Homo sapiens: one gene and its partner. The protein of the gene in region 1 purifies or fractionates together with the protein of each later gene. This does not show direct contact. Each region holds a gene or a part of one and is shown on either strand. Other genes may lie near its edges. The genes, in order: MATN4 and VIPAS39.

Region 1 (3,000 bases):
ATCTGGTCCCTCAATTCAAGCTTTTCTGGCTGTGCAGGGTGCCGGGAAGGCCACGTGGACCTTGTTCTGCTGGTTGATGGCTCCAAGAGCGTGCGTCCACAAAACTTCGAGCTAGTGAAGCGCTTCGTGAACCAGATTGTGGACTTCCTAGATGTGTCCCCCGAGGGCACGCGGGTGGGGCTGGTGCAGTTCTCGAGCCGCGTGCGCACCGAGTTCCCTCTGGGTCGCTACGGCACCGCAGCCGAGGTGAAGCAGGCGGTCCTGGCCGTGGAGTACATGGAACGCGGCACCATGACAGGGCTGGCGTTGCGGCACATGGTGGAGCACAGCTTCTCCGAGGCGCAGGGTGCACGGCCCCGTGCCCTTAACGTGCCTCGTGTTGGCCTGGTCTTCACGGATGGCCGCTCCCAGGATGACATCTCGGTGTGGGCAGCGCGCGCCAAGGAGGAAGGTGGGCTTGGCATGGGACACAGTGGGCTGGGGTTGGGTCAGACGCTGGGAGGCAGCTTTCCCGAGGCCTGGGGCACCCTCTGAGACCCCGGCCTTGCAGGCATCGTCATGTACGCCGTGGGCGTGGGCAAGGCGGTGGAGGCGGAGCTGCGCGAGATCGCCTCGGAGCCAGCGGAACTGCACGTGTCCTATGCCCCGGACTTCGGCACCATGACGCACCTGCTGGAGAACCTCAGAGGCAGCATCTGTCCAGGTGAGCGCATCTCTCTCGGGGCTCCTCCTCTCTCTCATTGCCCGTCCTCTGATATCTCCCCTTCCTATTCACTCCCTGCCCACTTTGTAGTTATAGCCAGAGGTTGGGCTCACTAGACAGAGCTTTGCTACTCCAAATGTGGTCTGCAGGCCAGCGGCAGGGCGGTCACCCGGTAGCTTCTTAGAACTGAAACATTTCTGGTGCTCTCCAGACCGAATGAATCAGAATTTCCACTTCGACAAGATTCTCAGGTGATTTGTAAGCATATTAAAGTCTAAGAAATCCTAGACTAGGCTACCTGTCCCCCAAATCAGTGGAGGTTCAGAATAATTTGGGAAATTTTTTTGAAGGCACACCAGACAGCATTTGTAAGTGGAGCCACAGCATATATCCCTGAACTTGTTAGAATTCAACCTTATGAACTTGGCAAAGTGGCAGGACTGAATATATTTTAAGTATGCAAAGACTTTTTTTTTTTTTATTGGGGACAACATACCTCATAAGTGCAATCCCTCTACTTCATCATCTGGTGCTCAGCTGAGGAAAAAGAGACTGACTCTACCTGTGAAGAAGGGGACTCTTGAATCGCATGCAGTGTACTGTGCTCTAGGTGATACAGGGAATGTCTCCAGGGTAACTTTTACCCTAGAGACTTTAGACACTAGCCCAGGCTTAAGATGTGACTCTTCTTCCCATTTATCAGACTGCAGCTCCAGAAACAGACTAAGTAGGGCTGGTTTGGGTCTGGAGAATTTGCCTTTTTTTTTTTTTAGATATATGTAGGGGGGCTGGGCGCAGTGGCTCACACCTGTAATCCCAGCACTCTGGGAGGCCGAGGCGGCTGGATCACTTGAGATCAGGAGTTCGAGACCATCCTTGGCAACATGGTGAAACCCTGTCTTTACCAAAAAATACAAAAATTAGCTGGGCAAGGTGGTGGGCACTGAGGCAGGAGAATTGCTTGAACCTGGGAGGTGGAGGTTGCAGTGAGCCGAGATTGCACTACTGCACTCCAGCCTGGTGACAGAGTGAGACCCTGTCTCAAAAAAAGTATATATAATATACTATATATACTATATTATATAATATGTGTTTGTGTATGCATGCACATGCACGTGCATGTATATACACATACAAATATACACATACAGTCCTTCCCCCAACTCTCCTTCCCTCCCCGCTCTCAGCCAATTCTAATTATTGTGGCTCTTTCAGATTAGGGGCTCTTTCAGAGCTCTTCCTATGTGACTCTTATGGGCCCTGCAGTGTGACTTTGGACGAGTCACTTACCCCACACCTACCTTAACTTTTCTCTTCGGTAACAGGAGAGGCACTGGCTGCCCAAGGTTACCTCTAGTTCTAGAGTTCTAAGAGAAGTCTGGGTTTTGTGGTTGAAGCTCTTTATCAATTGGTGGTATGACTGTTCCCTGTCTCCAACCCTTTGTTTAGAGAAACAAATCTGTGAAGTTAGGGGTCTTTGCTGGATTCCAGCAGTTTGTTCATAGTACATATAAGACTAAGATGAAGAGACAACTTTTAAATCATTATGGCAGTGTTTTCAAAGGTTAAATGGCAGGTATTGTGCTTATTATTTCACCACGTGTAATCCTTTTTCTTTTTTTTCCTAAGGTACTTTTATTGTAGCATTTTTTTTTTCTATGTCATTCCCTGTAATCTTTTTTTTTTTTTTTTTTTTTTTTTTTGAGATGGAGTCTCGCTCTGTCATCCAGGCTGGAGTGCAGTGGTGCGATCTCGGCTTACTGCAACCTCTGCCTGCCAGGTTCAAGCGATTCTCCTGCCTCAGCCTCTCGAGTAGCTGGGACAACAGGCGCATGCCACCACGCCCGGCTAATTTTTTCTAGTTTTAGTAGAGATGGGGTTTCACCGTGTTAGCCAGGATGGTCTTGATCTCCTGACCTCGTGATCCACCCGCCTCAGCCTCCCAAAGTGCTGGGATTACAGGTGTGAGCCACAGCACCTGGCCTCCCTGTAATCTTAACAATGGCACATGCTTATAGAATTTCAGTGAATCTAAGATACCATTCATTTTAAGATTCATCACTACCTTATGTACTGCTAAGAAAAAACATGTGCCAGTTTTAATTGTAAGGCCTCCTGCCCAACCCCCAAGATGTTGATGTGTGGGGAGATAGAGTTGGATCAGGATCAGTGGTTCCTAAAAATTAGGTCACACCAGAATCACCTGGTGGACCTTTAAAAACACAAATTGCAGCTGGGCATGATGGCTCATGGCTGTAATCCCAGCACTTTGGGAGGCCGAGGTGGGCAGATCACAA
Region 2 (3,825 bases), on another chromosome or scaffold:
CACCCCCTTTCTCAAGGCAAACACTGTTAAAAGTTTAATGGGTAGCTTTCCAGACCTTCCCTCATGAATTTGCAAATAAACATCTGTACTTACAAAGATATGGAAGATGGAATTATTTTCTACATTGATAAGTTCATACTACAAATATTAAGTAAGTTACTTATCCCATTTAGTAGTATTTCAAGACTTTTCCCTGCATTCGTTTCTATAGATCTAAGAAGTTATTTCAAACCTGATTCATTTCCACTCTCTCAAATCCCTTGATTTTTCTGAAAAATTCATTTCTCATTATTTCTGTATCCCTCAGCACCCCCACTCACCCACCACATTATTCTGGTCTGATCGTAAAACATAGACTAACCTAGAATGTGTTGAGTGTGCCTGGCCTACCTGCCGCTACCCCATCTTCCTCTTTCAGAACTGGCTGGGCTATACCAAGAAGAGAGCACCCATTGGCTTCCATCGGGTTGTCGAAATTTTGCACAAGAACAATGCCCCTGTGCAGGTAATGGGTCCTGAAGAGAGTTGGGTACAGGATATTCTTGGAGACCTAACTTTAAGCCTCTTACTGGTCAGTGATGGGAGACCCGATCTGCTCTTGTTTTCCCTTAAAGGCAGCACAATGGCTGCAATAGGCCTCAAGACAGAAAAGGCCAGGGAGTGAAATTCTCTCCCTTTCTCCCCTTTAGAAACAATTCCAAACTGTCCTCTCTGAGTAGCATCTACTGTGTTAGCCCAAGTGGAATACTGATGTACTGTTCAAATGATAGAAAAGGAGAACTCGTGGAGAAAAGACATCAGGGAGAAATGAGCAGAGCACTGGATCACAGCTAGAGCACTCATTGCTGGCATGTGTATCTGGCTCGAGGATCAGGAGAAGTGTGCTCTTTCCTGCTTACTGAGGCAGCATGGAAGTACTGTGTAGCGTTACCTCATTCCCATTGCAGAACTAGTCCTGTGGTTGATGATGGAAACTGGAAACATTAGCTATTGAACTCTTTTGCCTTCTTCAGGACTTTCTTTTCTACCTTGTAGAGCTCTGTGCCTTATGGGTGTTTGAATCATTAATCGGAAGTACCTCTTCCCACAGATATTACAGGAGTATGTCAATCTGGTGGAAGATGTGGACACGAAGTTGAACTTAGCCACTAAGTTCAAGTGCCATGATGTCGTCATTGATGTGAGTCCCCAAGAAATGGGAGTCCTCCGTTAGATCCTCAGTGGCGAAGCAGGGTGGGGATTATAATATTCTCTGTCCAAGATCCTGAGGTGCTCCCACCAGGTTTGACTGAATGGACAGAATAATCTGGCAAGAGTTTGTTTGGAGACCAGCACTCCTGTATTATTTTCCCAGCCCTCTGACTGCTTTCTCTGTGTTTTTATAAACTTGTCGTACTTGGAGAATTCATAGAACTAAATCAAGCTATACAAGCTGTGTAGTCTTCTCTCCAACATGGAGTTCTGTGGGCACTGGACCCCACTGTTATCCCACTATAGCCTCTTAGCCTCTCCTTGAGCGTTGGGTCAAAGTGATAATGACAAAAAGAAATAAGCCCTCATGTGTACACAGTAGCACACACCAGTAGTTCCAGCTACTCAGGAGCCTAAGGAGAGAGGATTGCTTGAGCCCAGGAGTTTGAGACCATCCTGGGCAAAAAGAACCCTGTACAGAGGCTGATTGGAGGTTTGTATTGTTTGTTTTGATGCACAGACCTACCGGGACCTGAAGGATCGTCAACAGTTGCTAGCATACAGGAGTAAGGTAGATAAAGGATCAGCAGAGGAGGAGAAGATTGATGCTCTTCTCAGCAGCTCGGTGAGCAGCTACAGTTCACCCCTCCAGCAGGCTCAGGAGACAGACAGTTCACAAAATAGTACCAAATGTATGTTCCCAAGGTCTGGAAGGATTGCAGTTGGCTAAGCCACATGGATGTAAGGCTCTCCTCTGGCCACAATGTCAAAAGCACTGCTTTGAATAGCAGAAATTACTCCTGAGATGCGGTATGATAGGGGGGTAATCTGGGGACCTCAAGCTAAGACTTAACTGTAATGCTGTGATAATAGTTAAACCTAGCATGTAGGAGAAACTAAATATTGAAAGTATGAAAACATGTTACAGATTCAGAATATCCAAACTGTATGGTCTCGTGGGGATGGATGGGACCTACCAGTTGAAAATAAGAAGTGGGTGAAATAGATGTTAGCTACCTGGGGAGCACAGCTGGTTCGTCTCTCACAGCAGGAAATTACTGAGCTCTTTGTTAATATGAAAGTTAGTTCCCTGTTAGGTATTTTGGAACCTACCTTAGGGTCAAATGACCAAAATTAGGCTTGTAAAATACAAAATAGGTGTTTAATGCATCTTTGAATAAATGAACTCCCCCATATATTTTAAAAAATTTCTCAACATCCCCCACCTCCTGATCTGATTCTACTTTTTCTTTTCCTTACATTATCTAGCTGAGCCTTGTTTTGTTGCATTTTCTCTGCCTTGCTGTAGGGATAAGTGAAAACTGATCACACACTTTCATTGTTTCCTCTTTCCACAGCAAATTCGATGGAAGAATTAAGTGGCATTGACTACCTTGAAGCCTGCCTCATTTCCTCCTCTCCTGCCTGTGAAAGCAGAGAGAGCTCTTCTTTGGGAGAGCTGCGGCATCACATCGCTTGGGCCCATTACCCATGGGCAGTGCCAGCTACTCTTGACACAGATAACTTCAGACTGATCTTCTGTCCAAGGAACATCATCTGAGGATCGAGATCTAAAGCTTTGAGTCATGAGAATGATTCTCTCCACCTGGTGCTCATATGAAGGTGGGAGTGATTTCTAGATTGGGCCCCTACTGGGTAAGATCTCACTTGGTCTGAGAAAAGTGACTGCTCCAGAAAGGAAGAGGTATGGGAGTCATAGGGTGGCTACTGCATTCCACTCAGCTAATTATGATCCAGGACTTGGCGCTGGACATTGGCAGTTCTGCTCTGAATGAAGTCAGAACAGAACCAAAATGGCCTCAGGAAGGAATGCCAGTGTTTCCCAAGACCTCCTGGAGATGCACTCACACCAGACTGCACAGACCCCTCCACATTATGCCACACATGGCCTAGACGTTGTGTTTCCTCAGCCATTTTCCCTCTGCTGCCCCAGTTTACTCTGTCCAAAACCCTAAGGTTCTTCTCTCACTTGAACACAGACGACCTTGCTTGGGTGATGAGACATCCCCTTTATCTCTTCCTCTACTGCTGGCCAAGACCCGTCACTTTATAAGAAGCTCAGATGCAGCAGTGCTGGAGAGCTCTCTCTTTATGCAAAAATCTCATTTCACCAGGAGCTTTCAGAAGTTTCACCTGGGCTAAATTCAGCAGCATTTCTGTTAGGATATTTAGATGGAGGTTTTATTTTCACACTTGGATTCTTGCTCTGTACCAATATTTGCCTCCTTTTCTGTGACTGAACTGGGTTTTTCTGACATGCCTAGACTCCTAATAAAGGTATTTCTTCCTTGGTGCCTTCTCTCCCGCTCCTGGTGGTTTTGTGTAGAATGATGAAATAATTGCTCAGGATCTTAGGATCATTACAAGTCTTCCTCAGTGACTGCATTTAGCAGCCTGTCGGCACATGTCAGGTTATAGAGTAACAGTGCTATGGCAAAGCAGGGCTGTGTGGTTAACAGAAACAGCACGGTGCTGGGAGACACAAGACCTGACTTTTTCCAGCTCTACCACTAAATAGTTATGTGATGCTGGGTGAGTCCCTTTCTTTCTCTGGATTCATTAGATAATCTAAAATTTTGTAGAGTTTGTTTGTTTGTGAGATGGTGTCTCGCT

What was found.
Region 2: the proteins of MATN4 (region 1) and VIPAS39 purify together in Homo sapiens (affinity purification with mass spectrometry; 2 studies listed by BioGRID and IntAct, with this or other methods). This does not show direct contact.

Annotation. Positions count from the first base shown.
Region 1 is NC_000020.11:45,295,621-45,298,620, reverse strand, and holds part of MATN4 (matrilin-4 isoform 1 precursor), read left to right. Parts: intron 1-37; coding exon 38-451; intron 452-550; coding exon 551-703; intron 704-3,000. UniProt on the Homo sapiens protein: Major component of the extracellular matrix of cartilage.
Region 2 is NC_000014.9:77,426,361-77,430,185, reverse strand, and holds the end of VIPAS39 (spermatogenesis-defective protein 39 homolog), read left to right. Parts: intron 1-16; coding exon of another isoform or gene 17-67; exon of another isoform or gene 68-96; intron 97-418; coding exon 419-505; intron 506-1,090; coding exon 1,091-1,180; intron 1,181-1,711; coding exon 1,712-1,816; intron 1,817-2,549; coding exon 2,550-2,570; 3' UTR 2,571-3,511; downstream 3,512-3,825.